3 separate regions of the Homo sapiens genome follow, and all the other regions are linked to region 1. The links come from fine-mapping of genetic effects on gene expression. A gene starts in region 1. Each other region holds a variant in brackets. All regions are shown on one strand. Distances are between the middles of the regions.

Region 1 (8,344 bases):
CAGTCATAGGAGTTACAGATGAGGCCGGTTTGGGAACTCTGAGGGAGGGGGTGTCTCTCCCCAGGGATCGGCTGCTGTTGCCTGCTGGGCCCCTGTATATTCAGGAAACTCAGGACCTTGCAGCTCAGTTCTGCTCTATCTGTAGATGCTCAGAGTCCAGAGCTGGGCCAACCCTTCCTTTTCCCCACCCCCCACCCCCTCCCCCCCCCCAACACCTGCTTTATGTCTCTGCAGTCATTTGGCTTCAAACCTCCCCACTGGCTGGCTGGAGATCGCCACCATCCACTTGAGCTCCTCAACACACAGAAGAGCTGGCCAGGCTTCCCCAGCTGCTGCCACCACTGTCTAGTTCCCTTTTCAAATTCCAGGCTGGCCCTCAATCCTACATATGCCCATAACATGAGGAGAGAACTAACCATGAAACCTACAATGGCATAACAGTGCCCGCCAGCCTGCACTAAAGGGAACTTTGAAACCACAGAACATACCAACCATTAAGGCCAACCAAATAGTTTACAGATGGAGAAACTGAGGCCTGGGGTGCCAGGGAGAGGTGTGATTTGATGGAAATGGCCCAACAAACTGGTGGCAGATGCAGCAGAAAACCCAGACCTCCTGGCTCCAAGTCCAGCAGCCCCTCCACTACAGATTTGGGGTCAGGTAACCTGGAAATTCAGGTCCCCACGGGAGGTCACTGAAGCCCGTTTGGCTGAGAGAATCTATGCATTAAACTGCCTTCCGTAAGTTAAGACTGGGATTCACCCAAACAATAATAACGACGATAATAATAATAAAATGCCAAACAATATGGCTTGAAAACCTTCAATGCACAACATTTGATAATCATACATAGAATACATCTTCCACATATTCACATAAAATAATCAATGATCATTTTTTCTCGCAGACTACAATCCAATCATTCTCTCTCCCTTGCTCTCTCCCTCACTCTCTTTTGTTACTTGCAAACCATCCAAGCAATCAATGCCTTGACCTCTCCTTCTGATAGACACAATTACAAAAAGACAGAGCAATGCAATTCATCTATTCAAGACGGATTGTTTGAACACTCTGTCACACTGCTGAGCTATCCATCTCCTTGTCTAAGAGGAAATTTCAGCCCCCAAAAGAGGCACAAAGAGAGGGGGTGGGTACGATGCTCCTCAGCCCAGAGAGCCCCTCTGGCACCTGCAAGAAAGCCCTCTCCGGGCTGGTGCTCGGCGATGCCTGGCTGCTGGAGAAGCATTCAGCTCCAAGCTCAGCCGGCTCAGGTGCCAGTCTTGAGAATCAGAAGCACCTAGCACACTCCAGAGGGCCTAAATTCTTAAAGCCCCAGCCAGAACCCTGAGATCCCAGGGATGGGGGGGATGGGAAAAGGGAGAGGGCACTGGGCCCAGCCAAGGTGGTGTGTTTGGATTTTAGCATGAGATTCTCTCTCTCTCGCTCGCTCGCTCTTTCTGTCCATGTCCACTGTAGCTCCCTGGCTCCAGCTGGGGTTCAAGCAGGGGCTCAGAAGGACAGAAACTCAGCTCCCCAGGAGTCTCCAGAGGCCTCAGAGTCCTCCCATCCTCCGCCCAAACTGGCACAGCTCTGGCAGTCACGTTTGGCGCAGGCACAACACCCCAGTCCATGGGCTGAGAATCAAATGGGGCAGGGCTCTTGGATATAAATGACCTGGGCTGACACGCTAATTAATCCTGGGGCTTAATACGAAGAAGATTAGAAGAGAGGAGGGCTCTGCCATCCTTTAATTTCATTATTACACGCTGAACCCAAGAAAGGGCGGGCAGGCTTGGGGATGCTCTTCCTAAGGGCTGGGAGGAACTCCCTAACCCATTCAATTTCACAGTAAGGATACATCATCCTGCGCCTTCCCAGCTTATCCCTCTGAGGCTGCCCTTACGGTAGCCTGTCCTTCTGGGCCTCCAAAGACTTCCATCCCTGAGGCTGGGCTGGGAGCACACCCATCCCACCCCTGTGGAAGAAGGATCAAGGAAAAGGGAACTGCAATCCGTGCGATGGGCAAATAGCACCCTCTCAGTCCCCCCACCTTTTTCCCCAAGGACACCCTACGACGCAGGCCCCCAAAAAAGCAGAGGGAAGGAGACAGGGAATAAAGGAAGTGCTGGTCCATTACTGGGGGGGGAAGGGGAGGCTTCCTGCCCCTGGAATGGTGCCAGGCTGGGCTTGGGGCAGGCAAAGGCACAGAGATAGAAGACATTTCGGTTGTCAGGAGCAACCAGGCTGGGCTGCAAAGGGTTAAGCCTGACCATAAGGGTTGTCCCCAGTGTCCCCTCCCGTGCCTGGCCTCCTCTGCCTCCGGTGCTGGTGTTTGCCTGCCAGGGTCCTGGGCATGGACCGAAAGATCTCAGCGTGGGCAGAGCTGAGGACTGTGCTCTGCCCCATCCAGATGGTGTTCAAGAGGGTCCGGCTCCCGGGCGGCCGCCCAGGAGGAGACCCACCCGCTGGGTTTCTGACCGCCTCCTAGGAAAATCTCAAGTACGGAAACCAAGCCCGACACCGGTTCCGGCACCTCTTTCACGCCGCTGGCAGCCCAAGGTCCGCCCTGAAGAAGAGCTGTAGAGGAGGAAGGTGGCCCTGGCTCGGCGGAGTCCGGCTCGCCTGGTGCCAGGCGCTGGTGCTGGCGCCGAGTGAACCCAGGCGGCCCAGGTGTCCGGCCTGGTGGCGGGCGCAGGGCCTGCGGTGATGGAGGCTCCGTCTTAGCCCGGCCAGGCCCAGCCCTGCCGGTCGTCGGCCCGGGACATGCGCGGCGCTCAGGCCTGCAGGGTGCCTTGGGCGGCCACAACAAAGTTAAAGACCGGAGTAAGAGTCTCCGGCGAGAAGAGACGCGGAGAAGCCGGAGCCCCGGAAAGCCGCGCGCAGCCCCGCCAGCCGCCGCCAGCTGCGGAGGAATTCGGGCTAACTTTAAAAACCGCTGGCGTCCCTGGGCCGCCTGCCCGGGCCGCACTGGGCGGCCTCCATCGTCCCTTCCCTCTACCTGCACTGCCCCAGGCGGGAGAGAGGCCTTGGCCCCGAGGGACCAGCTGCAGCGGGCAGCGGGGTCCTGCTCCCCCAACCCCCGCCCCATGGCACGGGGCTGAACCGGTACCACCGAGGCCAAGGGCGACCACCAGGAGAGAAGACCGGCTGCCCTCGTCATGCGAATCTGTGCCCTGCGACCTCGCTGCGGCTGCTCGAGCTATGCCAGAGGTGGGGACGAAGGGCCCGCGGGGAGTGAGGTGGGCAGAGGAGAGAAGTTGGCGCCTTCCCCAGGGTCCCCACTCTGCGGAGAAGCCCGATCGCAGAACTCGGTCGGCTGCGGTTCATGCTGGCAGTCACCGCGAAATGCGCCCTCGACTCGGGATCGCACTGGAAACCTTCGCCACACTGTGCCAGGTCTGACCTCCCAGGAGCGCGCCAAGGGCCCCTCGCCCACTGCGGCCCGGCGGCCTCCTCCCCAATAAGTAAGGCCCGTGACCCCGACTCTGGAACTTTGTCCTCACAGGGAGGAGCTCCTGGTGGTCACCGATCGGCTCAGCAGCTCGGAGAGAGGTTAGGAAAATCTCTCCGGAACGCGTTGGGAGGCCCCCTCATTCCCGCCCCCTCCCGGGCGCACGGAGACCCCCGGCTCCAGGGAGCGCTTACCGATCCGGATGACGTGGGGCATCCCGCGCGAGTCCGGGATCCAGAAGGCGCACACGAGGAGCCCGGCCCAGTATTCCCAAACCAGACTCCGGAGGCGCCGCCAGGGAGCGGTCATCGTTGGGCGCCGCCGAGCGTGCCCGGGGCGCGGCCGTGGCGGGCTCCCTGGGGCGGCAGCTCTAGGCGCGGGCGCGCAGCAGCCCCGAAGGCGCCGCCTGGCCCAGCCGCCCGGCTCCCGAGCGCCGCTGCAAGTGGGGGGCGCCCCGCGGCGCCGCGCACATCTTACTGGGGGGCCGCCCCGCCGGCGCCCGCCCCGCCTGGCTGCCGCCCACGGGCTGCCCGCGAGCGAGGCTCCTGGGCTCCGCCCGGACTCCGCTCGGACTCGGCTCCGGCTCCGACTCGCGTCGGCTCGGCTCCCGCGCGGGCTCCCACCTGCCCCGGCTGCCGGGCTCTGGCGGGCGGGCTGCACGCGTCTCCGGCCGCTCCTCCTCCAGCCGCCGCCGATGCTATCGCCCGGGCTCGCACAAAGCCCCGGAGTGGAGTTGCACGCGCGCACACTCTCCCTCCCAGCCCCCTCCCCTGCGCCCTGCCTCCCGCCTCCCGCGCCGCCCGCCGCCCGCGCTCCCTCCGCGCACTCCCCCGCGCACACACACTTCACACTCACACTTGCCGAGGCGCACACTCGCGCGCTCACACCTGCGCGGGGGGCGGGGAAGGGGACCCTGGCCCCATTGTAGGGGGACGCCCGGAGAACGAGGACTCTCCTCGCTTCCCAGACGTCCCCACCCGCCCCGCCGGCCCCAGTCCCTTCTACTGCGAGGGCACGGAGCCCGGGAGCCAGGCGTGGAGCGCGAGAGCTGGCACCGCGAGCTGGGAGACGGCGGCAGCCCAGCGGCCGGACCAGCTGGAGGAGACGCGCCCGCCGGGAGCAGCGAGACCGGGAGCCCGCCGTCTGCGGAGCCTGGCCTCGCGGCTCCCACGCGGCGGGCGCTGGCTGGACGGCGGTGGCAGCGGGAGACTGACCCGGGAACCGGCTTCCCTCCCCAACCCCATTCCTCCTGGCAGCAGAGTTGGGGCTGGGGGTTCGGAGAGGCAGAATTCAAAGCGAATTGTCTACGCTGGGCCAGGGGAGCTGAGGGAGTTGGTAGAGGTGGGAGAGCCCAAGTCAGACCCCCTGCTGTGGGAAGCTGGACTTGACCGCGCACAGGTCCTGGGGCTGCGGAGGAGGAAGACCGCTCACGCCTTAGATGTAGGGGGGCGTGGGCGCCGGGCCCGCTCCCTCTCAGCCCTCTCCCGTAACTGTGCAGGAAGGGCTGGTGCCCCCTCCCTCATTCTCCTGAGAAAGAATAAAGAGAAACTGTAATTTGTCGTGGGATGGAGTAGGATCCGTGGGGGAGCAAGCTAAAGGGGTTAAAAAGAAAAACAACGTTGTTTATTAGCAATAATAATTTTTTTTCAAGTGGCGCTGGGTGTGAGGGAAGGGAAAGGCTGTGGAGCGAGGCTGGAGCAGGAGGCTGCGAATTACTCAGTTAGGCGAGTTTAATGACCTTTTTGACAGAGACAAAGCGGTGCCGATACAGTAGATAAATAAACGGATCTGTCACCGGGCAGCGGCTAGGCTGTGTGTGAATTTATTTTTCTCATTTAAATAATTTGATCTATTCTATCATTTCCAATCTTTCCCATTTGCCAGCTGTCTGGTAAGAGCATGGCCCCCAACATCTGAAGAGCAAATCTTTAATTTTCTTACAAATATTCTATGAGCCGAGCTCTCACCCGCCTGTTAATTTCCCTCTTTTTTCCCCTCCCTGTCTGGGTGCAGAGGCCCGTGGCATTGTGTGGGGATGTGAATATCTCAGTGTGGCCAATCCTGCCAATTAGGAAGGGACGCCCTCCCACCTGAGGTGGAGGCCACTGTGGCTGTGGGAGGAGGAGAGACTCCCTGGGCTCCTCACAAAAGAACACAGAGGGGTGCGCCCGTCCTGAGGACATCCTCAAAAATCCAGCAAACAAACTGAGGTTATTGAGTGTCTGTCTCTGCCAAAGTTGGGCCTCCCTCGCCCTGGAGCAGGAGCGGCTGGTTTCCCAAGCAGCCACTGGAAAATGTTGCCCGAGGGATCGGAGGGAAGGACACGCAGACCAAAGCTAGGGAAGCAGCAGCTGCCACCTCTTGATAAAAAGTAAGGGCTCCAGTGGGCGCCAGTAAGGAGGAAGTGCAGGAGAGGGCAGCAGAGGGCGCGGCCTCCCGGATATAGCTGGGGGAGCCCCTTCCTTGGGGACGCACACCCCTCCCCATCGCCTGCCTATCAGCTTCCGCAACAGGTTTGGTTGCCCCAAGGAACCAAAAGGCCTAGCTGTTCTCTAAGGAAGAAAATTTCGGTGCGCTGATAGACAAACGGAAAGGGACCTGAACTTGAGGCAAAGGACACAGGGCTAAAACGGCATTGCCCAAGGCTGGTCTGGGGACAGGCAAGGGGAGTGCCTGGATGCTAATTCTGCCTGGGTTGTCCTGCAGTCAGCCTGCAAGTGGCTTGGCAGAGAAACAGAAGCAGCAGAAAGGTAGAGGTGTGGCTCCCAGGAGGGAGCAGATCCAAGGCCTGTGGAAGGGAGGGATAAGGGGAGGGGAGCAGGAGGAGAAGCAGCAGCCTCCAAAAAAGCTAGCATGAAAGTGGTGCTAGAAACGCGAAGGGAGGAAGGCAGAGGGGGATGCTGAGGCCCCCAGAGGGTGAGAGTGTGGCTCTGCCACCTGCGAGCCCCCTCGGCGCCCCAGGGAAGCAGCACAGGCTGGGCCTGCTCCTCCTGCATCCCAGAGTGGGCGGGAGTTACCCAGCACGCTGCGGATCGAGGCTTTTTTCTGCTGCCACGTAGGGCTGCGGTGGGAAAGAGCCTCCCAGCTGCAGAGGCTGTGGGGCCCAGTCACTGGACTTGGAAGGCAGCTGGAACCCTGCCTTCCAAGTTGGGGCCAGAGGGAAGCTGCCATCGCCAGCCTGGGACTGGGCCTTTTTCTTGACCTGGCTGCGAGCCATTTTGTGACACAGAGGTTTCCCCAAAACTAACAGCAGCGTGTTCCCTCCCGGTCTAGGGGAGGGTGGGATGCATTGCAAGAACAGAAACAGCAGCAACGATCCCCATAATGACCCCTAGTATTTATTACATGTTTTTATGTTCCAGACAATATATTCACTACCTTACACGCATCACTTCACCTCTTGCTCTCCACACCCACTGCGATAGGATCTTTGTCTAAAATAACAAATCCATTTTACAGATGAAGACTGAGCCTCAGCGGGGTTAAGTAAGAGGTCCAAAGTCACATCGCTGGTATGTGACCTTTCTTTCTTCCCTCCATTCCCCTTCCCTCCCTCTCTCCCTCCTTCCTTCCCTCCTTCCCTCCCTTCCTCCTTCCCTCCCTCCCTTCCCCCCTTCCTCCCCTCCCCTCCCTCCTTCCCTCCCTTCCTTCCTACTTTCTTCTAAAACATATTGGGCATCACCATTTGCCAGGCACTGTGGGTGAGATGTCAAGGTTCACATATAGGCTCAGCCGACTCCTGAGCTCATAGAATTAACCCTGTCCTCTACCATCTGGGCTGAGTAGGGGACAAGCTGCAGGGGCCAATTCTCATCACTCTTGTGGAGCCCCACTGGGGCTGCTGCCTGCGGTGGAAGGCTAAGAGCAGAATACTCAGACACTTTATCAGGGCAGATCGGGGAGCCCAGTCATCCCTAACTCATGAAGAGAGACCTACAGCCCTCTCTGCCGGTGGCATGACATGCCTCTCCAGGCTGCCCCGCCACCAGCAGGCACCAGGGCTGGCACTATCTCCAGCCGCATCTCCTCCGGGCATTGGGAGCCGCCAATCCTGGCTTTTCGCATTGTTGGTAAACAAGTCTACCCACCAGCCAGGCCTAGGCTCCCTGCTCCCCCACGAGGCAGCCAGCGCCGGATTTATGAGGCCTCCAAACCTCATTCAGACTAATGCAGCTTTTCATTCCCAAATAAAAGGGGCCGCTGTCTGAAAGGACAAGTGCTCCCGCATTTCATTAACATCCCTGAAAACGGCTGAGCTGGCCCGAGTTCCTGCCAGCGAGATTCATGTCTCCCACTGGCTCACAGGTGGGTGGTGAGGGTAGGATTTCCAGGAAGAAACCCAAGACTCCCAGCCCCCTCCCTGGCCTCGTCCCCCCACCCCTCCCCAGCTACTTTGGGTGAGGGACGGGGCACCCAGTGGTGGCCGATCATGCTCTTTGGAGGAGCCCCCTGTGCACGTGTTTTGTTTAGACTGATCCACTCTGGCTCTCAACCCCCCCCACAATCGCAGTGAGTGATGATGCCCTGGGCTCGAGTTACCGAGATTCATGTTCTCTGCTTCCCTGGGAAACCACGGAGTAGACGTGTGCAGTGGCTGAGTGCAGATTCCTAGGACTTGAGTGCCCTCTGCCGAGGCCTGCCTACCTTCAGCTCCCTTCCTGCTACCCAGTAGGCAGGCTGCTGGTCGTGGCTGGACGCTGAAGCCCTGGGGCTTCAGCCACTCCCTTAAATGTCCTACCATGGGGCCAGGCTGCTCTACAAGCCTGCACCTGGGGTGCCTTGCTGAGAATGGGGGAGGGGCTCCCTTGCCCCATCTCACCCCAGCATGGGGCCATGATGAGAGGAAGGCAACCGCCAGCCCTTGCCTGATCTTTGCCAACTGCCTGAGCAGGG
Region 2 (8,000 bases), 150 kb before region 1:
GCCTCTACCTTCTGTATGCCACCTACTGCATGCTCCGAGCTTCAGCAGCCCTATTGTGACTATGAGCTGAAGGCCAAGAGAGCTGTGGCAATACTGACCCAGCACCCTGACTTTGTCAAGCTGCTAAATCATCCCAGGAAAGGCCCATCTCCAGAATTCTTGTCAGTGAGATAACGGTTTATTGCTTGAGTCAATGTGAGTTGGGCTGTCTGTTACTTGCAGCCAAAACATCCTGATGGACACAATCTCCAAAGCAAACACAGCCAAAGCCCACTGTGGAGTATTTCCCACTCCATGGGTTTGATGACCCATACATTGTCCTGCCCTTTGACATATCTGGATTCTGGGAGCACACTTCTTTCTACCCACTATACATCATCAAAGTTATATTATTTGGCTGAAGCCAAACCTGAGCCCCTAGTGCTCATTGTCTTCTTGATCAAACTCACTGACCCATTGACTCCCCTATGTTTTAAATATTTGTTGAACTGAATTGAGTTGAATTTAACTGAATCAAATGGAAAATGAAGTTGAATTAAACTCTAATTAAATATTGAAGGAAAGAGTATAAGGATAAAAAAATGAAGATGTTGCTATCCTATCTCCTTTTGAGAAGTTAATTGTATTCCAGAGGAGTGGGTACCTGCCCAGTGATCACAGGTAATTCCAGGCCATCAGAGCTGAGAATGAAGTGACGTGTACTTATAGTCAGAGCTAAAGGCACTTGTGGGTAAGAGCTGCAGACCTGAGCATCAGCTCTGGCCAGTTTTGCTAGCATGGTATCCATCATCATGATAAAGCACCTTTTCCTCTGCAAAGCCACTTCCTCCACCCTCCACCTAGACTATGTCAGTGTCTGCTCTGACACTCTGTACCCATGACATTCCAGTTACATGTCTTCAACATTACCCTGTTCACATCCCTTTCTTCTCTTCCATTCTGGCCCCATGTTCTCTTCCAAGCACCCCTTGAATTCTGGCCTCCTTTGCTCCTGTCTGGACCAGTGCAGTCGGCTGTGCTCTAGTCTCCTTGCTCTAGGCTCTCCTTCCAACCCTCCCTGTGCATTGCTCTTAGAACCACCTTCTAAAACTCTGCTTTGATTATTCTACGCCTTTGCTCAGCAATACTCAATGATCCTTGGCTGCTTTAAAGATAAAACCTGAACTCTGAGGCTGGACATCAGAGACCTTGCATAGCCAGCTACACTCTGTTAATCTGACTTTTTCTTCCCACCTTCCATACCTGAATCCTCTCCCCTAGCCAGGCTGTCCTCTTGGTTAAGCTGCTAGGTACAGTCCAACCTAGTTTTTGCTCATGCTGTTCCCTCCACCTGTAATTCCCTCATGATTCCTCTCCTCATTCATCTATCCTCTCCTCATTCACCTATCCTGCTCCAATCTCTCCTCCTCTGGTAAGTCAGCTCAGACCAGCCAAGGCCATAGAGCTTCCATTCCCCAAGTGGTCTGGCTCTGACTAAATGTATATGCCATTTCATTCTTAGCTCTGATGGCCTAGAATTATGTGTGACCTCTGGGCAGGCACCCATTCTTCTATGCTAAGATTAACTTTTCAAAAGAAGACAGGATAACAACATCTTTGTTTCTTCACCCGTATACTCTTTCCTTCAATATTTAATTAGGGTTTAATTCAACTTGATTTCCAATTCAATCCAAACTAATCCAATCCAGTCCAATCCAACTCAGTGCCAACAAACAATGAAAAACATCTACACTGTACCAGACCCTGTGTTAAATCCTGGAGACACTGAAAGCTCCTGGCCTGGAAGCAGACACAGACTCACAGACAGATAATGATTCACAGTGGTACATTAAGAAACAACTCCACAATGCAGCAGAAACACTGGAGTGGCTGGGAGGTGGGCAGGAGTGCCCCTCAATGGCAAGGTCTTCATGCTGGGGTGAATAAGCCAGGCTGGGGATCCCTGCTCTCAAGGATCTTCTGTCGGGTGCTTTGGAAATAGCAGGAACTCAATAGATGCTTGTAGAAGCCTGAGTTAAATAAACAGCTTTCCAATTGTCTTTTCTGAGGGAGTCTCTCCCTACTATTTCCAGTCCCCATTAGGAGGTAATCAAAAGCTGACATTGAATCACAGGCAGCTGAGAGCTGGAGGGCTCTTTCAAGGCTGGATGCAGCAGCTCTTGACATGTGGGCAGAGCAAGGCCAGATGGGTTAAGTGACTTGCCAAGGTCACTCTCTCTTAAGAGGCCAGGCTAAGAAATGTCTTGGGACTCAAGCCTTTGGAAAGAAAGAGGAGAAGAAACAGCTCCATGCTGGCTAGCAGCACAGACTTTAGGCTCAAACAGGCCTGTAGGTGCATGCTGGCTCTGGCACTCACTAGCTGGGTGACAGTGCACAGGGCATGTCACCTCTTTGGGACTCAGTTTCCTCATTTCTAATTCATCGCTCCAGGGAGTTACTATGAGATTTACATGAAATGAAATAAGATCACACTTGCACCACTTGGTTCGCAGCAGGTAAACAGTAGCCTTCTTTAGCAGATGAATCCAGAAGCATGTATGAATTCCATCTCTAGGGGACTCTCCAGGTCTGTCCCTGCCCCACACATCCTCACAAGGATGACTTAAGGATGAAGGCAGGGACCAGGCAGCGGTCAGTGCCCTCAGTGGCTCTTCTCTCCCTTTTCCCTTTCCTGCTTGCTCTTTTTGTGACTTATGGCAGACCATTAGCTCTCTGTACATAGAGCTACATGGAGATGGCTCTGTTCATGCAGATGGCTATGTTGTCCCGTTTGTGTTTCCCTACAATGTAGTGCTTGCCAAGACCAAGAACTGAGTTTTGGTGTGGTGTGGTGACTCACACCTGTAATCCCAGCACTTTGGGAGGCTGAGGTGGGAGGATTGCTTGAATCCAGGAGTTGGAGACCAGCCTGGGCAACGTAGCCAGAACTTGGCTCTACAAAAAAATACAAAATTAGCCAGGTGTGGTGCTGCATGCCTATAGTTCCAGCTATTTGGGAGACTGAGGTGGGAGGATCTCTTGATCCCAGAGGTCGAGGTGATAGTGAGCTGTGGTGGCACCACTGCACTCTAGCCTGGGTGACAGAAAGAGTGGGTTTTGTTTATCTAAGTATCTCCAGCTCCTAGCAATGAATGAGATCCAAAGGAAAAGCCAGAGTGCGTTTGCTGGGTTTGTTGGTGGTTATCTGCTAGGTGTGTGCTCTGGGCCCTCTCTAAGGGCCTGGGACTTGAGAGGCAGGGGGTATCACATTGGAGCAAGGGTTTTCTGGAAGGCAGAGCCCAGGCTGGACTTGGAAGGCAGGGCAGGAGTGGGTCAGGTGGGTCCTACCCAGAAAAATGTGGGCAGCATTAGCTCTAGCTGGCAGAGCATGTGGGACAGGTGCAGCCACATCAGGGAGCCCAGCTTTGGGCCCGCAGCTCATAGCCACGGGCCCCAGAGCCCATCTCCTCTTTCTGTCCTGGCAGGATGAGACAACAGCCTGGTGCTGACGTCTGCAAGCTTGGCACTGGCTGGGGTCAGCGGTCAAGTGGGTATGGCAGGGGCTGGTGTGTGTGCGAGCAGAGCTGGGCACGTGCAGGTGTCTGTGTGTGAGTGTGGGTAGAGAAGAGTGTGTGTGTGGCGGGTGAAGGTGTGAGGAGGATGAGAAGAACCAACCTTCAGCGCTCACTGCATGTCAGTGCTTGTCACTGTCATCTTGTAATCCCACATTTTACAGATTTACATTTTATAGGAAACTGAGGCACAAAGAGGCTACTCAGCCAGCAGGTGATAGAGATGGGATTTACACCCAGGTGGTTTGGCTCCAGTGTGTACACACTTAACACTAGGCCACGCCATAAGCTAT[G/A]TGTGTGAGTGTGCAAGTGTGAGGGTGGATGTGTTTGCAGCAGATGGAAATGTGTGAGCGTAAGGGCATGGGCAGGTGTCGGTGTGGCTTGCAGATGTGTGTGCTGCTGCTAGGGTGGGTGTTCAGTGCAGATTTGAACACTTGTGCTGCTAGAGGAGGAGCTGAGTGTGAGGCAGGGGTGAGGTGCGCTGGGGCTGAGTGAGATATGAGTGCCGCTGGGGTGCACAGGGTGTGAGTGGGTGCAGGGGTGAACATCAGCATAACCGAGTGGAACTGGGGTATGGAACACAGCCTCTTCCCCCAGGGCAGCTGTGCTGAACAAACAGACAAGAGCTTGATCCTGGGCCTCTGCCCCCCTCAACCGTTGCCCCCAGCCTAGCCAGGCCTGGCCACCCACCTGTACTGTCGTCATAGACCACGGTGGCTGACCGCCACTTGAGGTACTGGACCAGGTCGAGGATGGCATGGCTGAGCGAGGCGTAGTCGGGGTAGAGGTTCACGTAGAAGGTGTCCTTGTTGTCCAGCGGGTGGTGCTTCCAACGCAGCTGGATGTGGGGCACCTCCAGGGCATTGCAGATGGACTGGACGGCATTGGTGCAGGAGCCCTGTGATGGGCCGAAGATCGCCACCACGCCCAGTGCCAGCTGGTCACAGGCTGCAACAGAGGGTAGGGCAGCACAGGGGTCAGCACTGGGGCTGTGGGTATGGGGACAGTGATGCTGATGATCCTGTAAACATGTGGGAAAAACAGCAACTGGAACCCTCGGTGGGTGCACAATGGATGAGCTCTCTGAACCTCAGTTTCCTCATCTGAAAACAGGGGTTCTAACAGTCCCTGCCTTGCAAGACCACATGAAGGTGGAAAGACATGGTTGTGGGAGACTGGAGCACAGTGCCAGGGTACGTCCCTTTTCCTTAGGAAGTGCCCATGACAAAAGTGATCACCACATTCAATGTTACCATCCTGGGATTAGCATCACCATCTCTGTGCCAGGTTCTGTTCTTGGGGGACTTGAGAAACAAATAGAATCAAACTGGCTGATGGTGCTTCAACTTCAACCTCTAGCCCGGCCTGTTCCCTACCCCGGACCTGTGCATCTCACCTCTTACTCAACATCACCAGTTGGATATCTGACATGCATATCAGATCTGACATGTCCAGCACAGGATCCCCTCTTGTCCCAACCTCCTTCACCTCCATAAACAGCAGCTCCATTGTCCCTGGACCCATATGCCAAAAACCATGGTTCTGTCTTGATTCTTCTCATTCACTCATATCCCACACCCCAATTCATCAACAACTCCTGTGGCTTCACCTGCAAAATACATCACAACCTGACCACTTCCCGCCACTCCCAGCCCCGACTCCCATCCTGGTCCAAGCCGCCATCATCTTTGGCTTGGATTATTGCAGAAGCTTCCTCAGTCATCCTCCCTCCTGTCTATTCTGCACTCAGCAGCCAGGGTGAGACTTCCACAGTATAAGGTAGATTACGTCACTCCTTTGCTTCAAGGGCTCCTCAGTGCAAAAGCCAAAGTCATAGCAGTGGCCAGAGATCCTGCTTGTTGTAGCTCCTCCCTTCCCTGTCCCTACCGCCACTTTTCTGACTTCGTCTCCCATCCTTCTTTCCCTCCCTCAAAGCATTCAAGCTCCTCTGGCTTCCATGATGCTCCTTGAACATGCTAAGTGCATTCCTGCCTATTTGCACGTGCTGTCCTCTCTGGCTGGAATGCTCTTCCCTCATAGAGCCTCAAGACTCCCTCCCCCTCCTCCTTGAGGCCTCTGTGTCTGTGTCTTACTAGGGAGGCCTTCACCGCACAATTTATAATCACAATCCCTGTCCCCCCATGCCCTGTTTATTTCCTTCTTTATTAAATGATCACTGGAAGTCTTGTCCATTGGTTGACTTTCTCCTCCCAGTAGAATGTAAGTTCCAAAGAGGCAGGGCCTTGATCTATGTGGTTTACTGCTGTATCGACAGTGCCGAATCATCATCTGAATGTTGAATGAATGCCGAATCCCTGCCTTCAAACAGTTCAGGTTCTTGCAGAGGTCCAAAAACTCAGGCAGGTGAGGCAGCAGATGCTTTCCACCGGCCTGGGATGGTAGAACATCAGTGGGCACAACAGAGCATCAAATGAGCAGACCCAGGGCAGCTGGGGCTCAAAATGGGGGATTCTGCCTAAAAGATCCATAGAAAGGGGACCTCTTAGAGTCATTCTGGGGTAGGTGGGAGAGCTCCCCAGAAGCCATTCTCTCTTCTTTTCTCAACTGTCTCTAATTTTCCTTGGGGCTTCACCCCTCTTTTCCACTGTCAACCCATTGGTGCAGAGAATGCGGCTCGCACCCAGAAAACCACTCACTGACCTTCCTAGTTCACAGCCATGAGTTTAGAGGACATTTGTGGGCCAGTCAGAGCCAGTGGGATGCCATGAGATCCACTGGACTGAGAAAGGGGCACCTCCCTCTTTAAGTGAACCTTCAAGGAAGTAACAGCTGGAGCTGCAGTAGCCATCTTGTGCTCATAAAGAGGGGCGCCTGTCTGTGAACATAGTCAGTGTGGGTTGAGCAGAGCCAAGAGAGAGAAAACACAGGAGTCGCCCACCAGGCAAAACCCTGGACTTAGAATTTGCATGAACCAAGACTTACGCCATTTAGGTTTTAGTTTTCCGCCAGTTGCAACCATCGGAGATCCACCAACAGAGCATGAGCAAGCTCACCTACCTGTGGACAGGGGAATGACACTATGTGCACACATATGACATCTGATGCACACAGGAGGAGGCAGGACAGAGCACCGAAGCAGGAATGAATACACTGGATTCAGTGTATTGAGGCCTGGCTGTCTCAAGGGCCTCTGGGAATGACCCACTGGGCACAGGCCTACCCCTAAGATTTGCAGGGCCCAGGGCCAGAGTATAAGTGGAAGCCTACATACCATACGGCTAAATAGTTACATGCTGTTAGTCAAGCTAAAAAACTGTTAAACGAAACACGTCCTTTTCTCTTACCTTGACAAATGTACCTTCATCACAATCTGGAAAGTCAGGTGAGAATGGAGACTTCTCCTACACAGTGACATGGGGAGAGGTAGCACCAGGACCCCATTCTCCCCCTTTCTCTTTTACCACTGGCTCCATCCTGAACCATAAGGGGCCTTGCATTCTCTGTGGAAACCCCAGCCCTTATGTCCAAACACTGTCTACACCCACTGCAAACAGCTGCCCCTTGGTCACCCTTAGGGCCTAAAAGTGCACCTCCTGCAAGTATGGCTTTCCCTCTGGAAGACAGACCCAAGGAAGAGGCCCACGCATGTCCTAGAAGTGGGCTCAGGGGCAAGTGGGCAGGAAATTCAGGGTTCTAGATCCTTAGAGGAAAGTCTGGAAGGGCAGGGCACAGGCTCCTGGTGGGTATGTCCCCTGGTCCCACTGACTCCTTGTCCCGGGAGGAGAGGCCAACCAGAGGAGGCAGAGGGCAAGACATCAAAGCACAGGCCCTGGGAAAGGGTCCCTCTCGCCTGGGCTTAAGGATGGTCCAGATTGATCCAGATTGATCCAGAGGTACAGGGTAGTTTTGAATCCATCAGAATATGTGGTCTTGGGTTGTGTTTCCTGTTGACTCACATCCACCACTCCCACTGCCTCCTGGAAATGGGAGATTTTATATAAAGAAGTTATTTTTCCTGAAATCTGTACTTCTACCAGGAACACCAGAGATTGCCACTTAAGGGCAAGGTGAAAGATATAGCAATGTGATGAGCTGGCTAGTTTTTGTTAGGGGTCTGCTGGAGCCCCCTGTAACACGGGGCAGAACAGCAGCAGTGCCAGTACAGAGGGTATCTCCTGGGCAACCCAGGATTCATTGTGGCCAAGGCCAGGTGCAGGAGAGCACATACAACGGGGGCATGGCATCCTCCTGGTGCTTCTGTAGTTCTGGGACTGGGAGCCAAGTCGGGGAAGCACCATCTTGTTCCTGCTCTTGTCACCTTTGAGTCAACATGCCTTGGGTAGCCCTTGGTGTGAGCAGGTGTGTGAGACAAACCACAGTGATAATAAATGCTTTAAAAACAGGAACTCTGGGTTTGCTGGTGAATTGTCAAATTTAGGACTAGTTCTTTTTTCAGTTCCCTCTCCCCAAGGAGGCCATGCTCGGACC
Region 3 (8,000 bases), 170 kb before region 1:
GCCAGAGGGTGTCTCTGTGGCCCCAGTGTCAGTAGGGAGTGGGGGGTGGCAGTGCTCAGCCCTGCACAAGGACTCCATGGCTTCATCTTCACAGCCCCCTGTGAAGTAGGCATTGAATAGCACTCTATTCTATTTTTATAGATGAGAAAAGAGAGTTGGAGAGGTGAGGTGACTTACCTAAGGTCACATAGCTCATACAAGTCAAAGTTGAATTTGTACCCAGGTCTATTTCAATGGTGTGCTGCCACTGGCTCACACTGGCCAGTGGGAGCTGAATGTTAGCATTTCTTCCCAACTCTGCCTTCAGTGACATTACATGGCTAGCTTGGTATTGGCCATGGTAGGAGTATTTGTACCATGGACATTTGCAGGCATTACAAATCAGGATTTCTGTGTTTTGTCTTTTTTCTCCCTTTCAGAGAGCTGGTTGTTAAACATTGACTGATGCATCGTTGATTGTCTTACTCCAAACCCTCTATGTTCTATGTCCTCGGTGGGTGTCCAGGACAAGACATGCATCAGAGCTGTCTTTGGGGATTTTATTTTTCTAGAATATGAACCACACCTAGATAACGCTGATGCATAGTCTGTGGTGGAGCCTGGAGTCTGTGTTTTGAGAAGCCACTAAGCGATTACTCGTGACTGAGAAACACACACAGATGGGTCTGGGTTTAGATCAGGATGCCTCTCGAATCAGAGAAGGGCAGCAAAGAGGGGAGAGAATAAATATCCCAGAAGAAGTCTCCCTCCCTCAGCTCCTCCAGGGCGGCTCCCTGAGGTGGCCAGACATGGGCCAGACCACCTGGGCTCGAGTTTCACCCTCTCTCCTCATCTCAGTTGCCTCATCTGCAAAATGGGGTTGAAAGTGCCACCTACCATATAGAGTTGTCAAGGAAAATAAGTGAGTTTGTAGATGCCCTTAGAACATGTCTGGGACATATCAAACATCATGTATGTGTTTGACACATGTTTATGTTCTGCCTCGTCTGGCAGGAGGTTGTGACAGCTACTGGGTACATACAGCCCCCAGGGCAGACATAGGTTGGTGTCTTCCTACCTTACTCGTCTTGGCAATATCAGAACAAGCAAAGTCAGCTCACATTTACTGAGCACCTACAAATCTCAGAATGGCAGGCATTGTTCAAAGTACCTTACTTGTATTAACTCATTGATTCACATGGGCACACGACTAGGATGGTGTTATTATCACCCCATTTTAGAGGAAAGAACTGAACCACACAGATATTAGGCCTTTTGCTCAAGGTTCTGTAACTGGGGAGTGACAGAGTCAACACCAGGCTACCCAGCTCCAGAGCCCTCCCTCTTCCCTATGATGACGCATCTCCTCCTACCGAGAGGCTCTACCTGCCCAGCCCCCAACTCATGCCCACTGCCAGGGCAGTCACCCTCTGGGCAGGGACTAGAGGGATCTTTCTAAGGTATAAATCCAAGCCTGTCATTTCCACACTTCAAATACTTCCATGACTCCTTGTAGTCTTTTCAGAATATGGTACAAATTCCTTAGTACAGTTTTCCAAAGCTCTCCACCCCTCCAGGCTCACTTTCCTTCCTACCCTCTCAATTTTTTTGTCCCAGGATGCAAGTTCAGGCCTTAATTTTCCCAGTCTCGCTGGCCCCTGTACCCTTTGTCCTGCTTCTCGTCCCTCTGTTCAGCACCTTTGTATGCCTTCTATTTCCAGGCAAGAATGCTTGTCTTCTTGACCTCTCTTGGGTGAGCTATTCTCCAAGAATCAGCTCAAGTATCACCTCTTCCAGGAAGCCCCTCCTGATTGCTCCTGTACACATGCACAACAGAGTGCGTCAGACGCGATTCTGCTCTTATCCTGAGACTTCTGGGCTTTCATGCCACTGGTAACAACTGCTTGTGTCTGGGTCTGTCTCCCCTATGAGCTATGGGCTGAATATTCCTGTTACCCAAAGTGGAAAGAAGGGTCAGCCAGCTGAGTGGCTCCTGGGGCACTTAAGCATCACTGAGAAGAGCCTGGAATGTAGCGACAAGTGTTTCACATCCTCCTCTCAGGGGCAGCTTCAAGGAAGGGCAGATGAAAATACTAGGTTAGTGCAAAAGTCATTGTGGTTTTTGTTATTATTTTAATGGCACCAACCCAATACCCTCCCCATGATATAAGTGTTATTGCCGGGAAGTGGCATTAGTTGTCATTGTTTATCTATTAACTTATTATAATAGTTCTTTTTTCACCTCTAGGCTTTTATCTACATGTGACATGTAGCAGGGGCTCAGCTGGGGCTAATTAACTCAGGGTTATCTACAGACTGGAAGTTTAGGAGAGGGTTGGTAAACTGCCTGGGGTGGAGGATGAGATCTTCCCCAAACTGCCTTTCAACCAGGAGGGTCTGGGGAGCTGGAAGGATTTCCTTTTGGACAGTGGTGTTATGCAAGTTTGGGGCCAGGGCTGACCTGCTGCGACCATGGAAGAGAAGCTGAGCTCTGCCTACAGGGGGCGCCCTCCTCACCTTTCCTTGCATGGCATTCAGTCTCTTCTCCAATTCAGTGTTGACCTGATATCTAAGGCTTGAAAGATGCCAAAGCTTTAGACTGCCCAGGGCCTCCATGACTCGATTTACCCTCATCTAGGTAACCAGAGGCCAACCTGACTCAGTGTGAAGGGCAGCATCTCTGGCCTTGGTGGGAGCTTGGGTGCTGGTGGAACCAGCCCTTCTGGTCTCCAGAGGCAGCATTTGGTCTGTTGAGACTGACACAGAGGCTGCAGCTGATCACAGCCCGGGAGGGGGCAGGTTGGGGTGGTAGTGATTGGGATGACCTTCCTCCCTGTAACCCCTGAGCCTGGGCTTAGCTGCAAAGTGTTGTAGGGCCTGTGGCACAGAGTGCCCCCATCCCCGTGATACGAGGACAATGACAATGGGGAGCTGGTGAAGAGGCTCTTTTGTCCAGCTCCATTTTTTTTTTTTTTTTAATTCAGACTGCCCAGGGCCAAGACCCCAAGTGCTGTACACTGTGAACTGTGTGCAACCTTGCTGCTTGGCAAAAAGTTGTGTTCTCGATGCCAAATGTTGACACACTGAATTCAGTATCGACGAGGGACCTTTTAGAAACATTCAGCATAACATAATAAACTAATTCATTAGCACCCCATGGGTCTGAATGGGTAGGAGCTGAAGCTTGGAAAACATCGCCTTAAGGAATGACAGATGAAA[A/G]TATCTTCCCCATGATATCACTGTTATTGCCAGGAAGTGGCATTAATTGTGATTGCTTATCTATTAATTTATTATAATTCTTTTTTCACCTCCAGGCTTTTACCTACACATGACATGTACCAGGGGCTCAGCTGGGGCTGATTAATGCGAGGTTATCTGGGAATGGCTCAAAGCTGGTTGGAACAGATAATGGCAGCTGGGGTAATTAAAATATCTTCTGCATGGAAGAAGCAAATTTGGAGAATTTTTTTTAGAGGCGAAGAGTTGGTGATGTGGGTTTCCTAAAGGGAAGGAGATAAATGCCAGATGCCACTGTCCTCCCAAATAAGCCACAACTGACCAATGGGCACAAAGAGGGAGGATCACGAGGTAGAGGCCTCGGCAACAGGGCCGGAAGTGGATCCTGAAGACCGGAAGCAGGATATGACTGAGGGAGAGGACCAGGAGCACAGCTGGTGCTCCAACCGATGGGGTTCTGCTGGGAGATACTCTGGGAGACCCCGCCCCATACTCCACTGCAGAACTGTGTGTATTGCAAGGGCTATGCCTCCCTGGAAGGGTCCATTCTTCCCGACCCTCAGATTGTGTGGGGAGGAAGGACAGTCAGCTGGAACAGCCAAGGACAGGACCAGGAGTCAGGAGCCAAGGCCTCTTGTCACTGATCTGCTATGAAACTTCAGGAAGTGCCTGATGCCAGGTTTCCCCACCAGTCAATGGGGAGTGCAAAGTGCCCTGTTGCTGGCCTCAAATGTGTAAAGAGGAAAGTCAGAGGGCTTTCTTCTTGCTTTCTTTTTTAAAGTGACAGGGTCTGGCTCTGTCCCCTAGGCTGGAGTGCAGCGGCACAATCTTAGCTCACGGTAGCCTCTAACTCCTGGGCTCAGGCAATCCTTCTGCCTCAGTTTGCCTTCCAAGTAGCTGGGACTACAGGCCTGCCCGACTATGCCTGGCTAATATTTTTATTTTTGTAGAGATAGGGTCTCACTATGTTGCCTAGGCTGGTCTTGTACTGGCCTCAAGTGATCCCCTTGCCTTGGCCTCCCAAAGAGTTGGGATTACTGGTGTGAGCCACAATGTCCAGCCCTAAAATCAGAGGGTTTTGGAACTGGTGTAGCATGGGAGCTGCTGGGATTTCAGGAGGCTCCGTTTCCCCATTGACCTCAATTACCACACCTGAACCAACATGGTCAGGCATTGTGTGGAATCTGAGCCAGCCAGAGGAGGCCAGGGAACACTTGGTGTGGACTTTCAGCATGATAGGTTTCAGCAGAGGGCTTTGGAGCTGGACAGCTCCCTGCTGCGAAAAAATCCTTGCTCTGCTCCTTTCTTGCAGAGTGACTTTGAGCCTCAGTTTCCACGTTTCTATAAAACTGGGAGAGTCTATCTCCCTTGGAAAGTTGTTCTGAATTTTGGATGGGATGGGGTATGTTGAGCACACAGAAAACAAAAGCAGGATGTTTAGTTTATTTAACACTTACACTGTAATAAGTGCCAAGCATTGTTCTAAGCATTTTATGACGTCAATGCACTCAGCGTAACAATCCTGTGAGGTAGTAATATTACTGTCACCACTGTATAGATGAGAAAATGAGGCACAGAGAGGTTAAGTAACTTGCCCAAGGGAGTGGAAGAGTCTCAATTCTAACTCAGGCCAACTGGGATCAGAGTGGTTTTAACTAACTGTTGCTATGATGATGTGTTGACAATTTCACGGATTACTTTCCACATTGCATTGCAGTCATCCATCCGTCCATCCATCCAGCCGTCTGTCCATCCATCTGTCCATCCATCCAGACATTAATGAGCACCTACCATGTGCCAGCTTCTATGTGGGTGCTGGGGACAGAGAGGTTAACTGGGCACAGTTCTTGTTTCTTATATACATGAAGGAAGCCACCAGCTTGTGAGCTTTGTGTTGAATCCATCTATGTACACCCCTCCCACCCAAGTGCCTAGTGCAGTGCCCAGGACCTTGGAGAGCATTTGTATATGGCTGCTGGATAAATGAATCAATGGATGATTAAGAAAATGAAGAAAAATGGACACTGGCCGGGGCTAGTCTCTGTTCCCTAGAGACTTTAGCACACCACAGCTACCCTGGGTACATCATATCCCAGTTGACCATCCATTCCTCCTCTGCCTCTTCTCACCATCTCTTTCTCTGATTATCACCCACTTTCCCAGATCCAATTGTGGACTGGCTGAGCATCAGTCAATGTTTCTCAATGGGGCACCATAGTTATCTGGGGCTGGACAACTCATCTCCAGAATCTTGCCCATCATAGAATGTCTAGCATCCCTGATCCCCACTCACTAATTTCCAGTCTTGGTGACAAATAAATGACTAGCTCCCATATAGCTAAATGCTCCCAGGGTGAGGGTTGTGTCACCAGCAAGATTGCAGAAACCACCCTTGGGACAGACGACGACTACTTCTTGGCCAATCAGCTGAGGTCTGCCCATGGGTAGAGAGAAAGAATGCTCTCTAAGGTCCTGGGCACTGAGCTAGGCACTTGGGTGGGAGGGGTGTACAGAGATGGATCCAACACAGAATATAAGATAGAGCCACCAAGCAGAAAGCCTTGGGACATTGGGAGGTTTCAGTAGAATTGGGGTCAGAGCAGGAACAAAATCTTCCTATCTCCTTCACCCACCCTGAGTACTGCCCTCGCCACCCACTCTGTCTGCACAGGGCTTGTGATTAAACCCCCTCTGGGCCTTGCTCCAAGTCCCAGCCGTAAATATCCTATTAAAAGCATCTCTGCCTGGCTCAAGCCTCATTCCAAGGCCGGGGTGGGGGGTCGTTGAGTTGGTAAAATGGCAGGGCCTGAAGCTTTGGCCCCTCAGCCCTGCAGCCTGGCTGACCTTCCAGGACAAGACTCTGGGGAAGGCACCACCCCAGTGACCCCAGTACCTTCCACGTTAATGCCATTGGCCACTGGGGTCAAGATCGAAGGTCTTAAAGAGAGGATCCTAGTGTCCCCGGGTCCAGGAGTTGCTCTCAGCACCCTAAGATCTCAGGATGGGATGGGGAGGGCTGCCATGAGTGGGGAGAAAGTTGTGGACCCCTGGAATGTGCCCCACCCCACCTTCCCAGTCTTGCTCCTCTGCCCTGCTCCCAGCTCTGGACAGAGGTAGAGTTTCAGGGGTCTGGTAGCCTCCCTTGACTTTCCAGGAGACAGCATGGCAGGAAGAAGCCAGCTTAGGTGGGCGGAAATCCAGAAGGGATTCAGGGGAGCTGGCTTCACTCTGCCTGATCTCATTCGCCAGCTTCCAGGATCCCTTTCTCCCAGCATGGCTCCTGGCAGGTCCCCAGGTCTGAGCCCTGGATCAGGAGAATCGCAGGGTGGCTCCTGAGCTCTGCTGTGGGCACAGGGTGCAGAGGGAGGGACTGTAGGGAGGATAAGTGCTTAATAACCAGCTCTCTGGGGGAGGCGGCTCTTATTTGTAGCATTTGCTCACTTCCATTGTGTAAGCGTTCCCGTCACAGTGATTTCAAGCTACCAACATGACATGGACTTAGGAGGAGATAATGCAATTGGCTCTCGCCCGCTGGATCAAGCCAGCTCCTGCATACCATGAAGAGCTAACTTGCCTCTTGGCCTTTGCTTATGCTGTTCCTTCTGCATACAATGTCCTTCCTCTTTCTCCCTTGGTGAACTCCTATGGATCTTTCGAGGCCTAGTTCAAGTATCTGGTTTTCTGTAAGACTGCCTCAAACTTCCCGCCTTCCACCAGACCCTCAGAACCTACGGGGTCATAGATGCTGGGTAGGGAGAGCTAGCTGGGTGCTGGATAAATGAATGAATATGGTTAGAGGCCTACAGGGCTGCAGTGGCTGGGCAGACACATACTGCAGGAGGCTTTTTGAAAAGCGACAGGATGGTCAGTGAGGCTGTCACTCACCTCAGACCTGGGATGGGTGGAATAGTCTGCCCAGGGCCCCAGCAGGGTCTGAAGGTGTCTATCTGCAAGGCAGTGAGGCTCAGGATGGGTGCCCTTTTGGCACAGGAATCTCTTTATTCTGCTGAACTCAGGCCACAGCTAATTATCCTAATGGGTTTAAATGGCCCTAAATGTTCTCAGAGTTTGGACAGGACCCATCTGGAGCCTGTAGGTGGGCTGGGCTAGCTGACAGTGAGTGGGCAGACTTCAGTATGAATGTGGACAGAATCCAAAGCGACAATTCCCGTGAGGCCCGAGATATGCGTGGGGAAGTGTGGGCTAGGAACCGAGGGCCATGATAATCATAATAGTGAATACTTCCAGAGCTCCTCATGTACCAGGCACTGCGTGTTACCTTATTAACTCATTTGGTGCTCACAGTAATCCTAGGAGGCAGAAGCCCATTTTGCAGAGGAAGAAACTGAGGCAGGGAGGTTAAGTGCCTTAGCCAAGGAACCACAGTGGTGAGCAGAGGAGCTGGTGTTCACATTGGCTCCAGAGTTCACATCCTTAATTATAACATGATGCTGCCTCTCACAAGTGGGCAGGTCACAAAGACATATTTGTGCCCTTACCTGGGGCCACCCCTACAGCCTGAGGAAGCTGCAGCAATTGTCTTCAGTGGGCTGGCCCAGGCTAAGCCACAATGAACTTGATCCATGAGAGTCCCACCCCTTTCCCGTGCCAGGACCCAGAGGTACATTACCAGAGTGGTGAAGATGAAGTGGTAGTACTCAGTCATCATGCCCATGGCCATGGCCTGCAGAAAAGCAGAGTGTTAGTGATCAGCAGGGAACCCCTGGGCAGCCCTCCCCACATCCCCACCCAGGGCTGAGAATGGGACTGGCAGTGGGTTGGGG

Alleles and levels. Alleles are on the strand shown, and positions count from the first base shown. SD is a standard deviation of normalised expression in the study named.
In carriers of allele A in region 2, the expression in transverse colon of the gene that starts at base 4,167 in region 1 tends to be lower than with G alone (moderate effect, 0.59 SD a copy in GTEx).
For the expression in esophagus muscle of the gene that starts at base 4,167 in region 1, A is the high allele of the variant in region 3 and G is the other (moderate effect, 0.65 SD a copy in GTEx).

What was found. PIP is the estimated chance that this variant, and not a neighbour inherited with it, causes the effect.
Region 2: its variant is fine-mapped to the expression of GRIK3 in transverse colon (GTEx, PIP above 0.99).
Region 3: its variant is fine-mapped to the expression of GRIK3 in esophagus muscle (GTEx, PIP above 0.99). The same link has a PIP of 0.9 or more in atrial appendage, esophagus mucosa, gastroesophageal junction, sigmoid colon and tibial nerve.

Annotation. Positions count from the first base shown.
Region 1 is chr1:37,030,349-37,038,692 of GRCh38, forward strand. It overlaps GRIK3 (glutamate ionotropic receptor kainate type subunit 3), which reads right to left and starts at 4,167. Exons shown (of 16, transcript NM_000831.4): 1 at 3,646-4,167. The coding sequence starts at 3,760. RefSeq lists enhancers at 1,922-2,821, 2,822-3,721, 4,296-4,857, 4,858-5,418, 7,664-8,224.
Region 2 is chr1:36,876,393-36,884,392 of GRCh38, forward strand. GRIK3 (glutamate ionotropic receptor kainate type subunit 3) reads right to left here. Exons shown (of 16, transcript NM_000831.4): 3 at 4,242-4,499. Among named protein-coding and RNA genes, the nearest start is that of GRIK3, 150 kb to the right of the region's middle. The variant G/A (reference allele first, on the strand shown) is at 3,845.
Region 3 is chr1:36,861,902-36,869,901 of GRCh38, forward strand. It overlaps GRIK3 (glutamate ionotropic receptor kainate type subunit 3), which reads right to left. Exons shown (of 16, transcript NM_000831.4): 5 at 7,847-7,900. Among named protein-coding and RNA genes, the nearest start is that of GRIK3, 170 kb to the right of the region's middle. The variant A/G (reference allele first, on the strand shown) is at 3,199.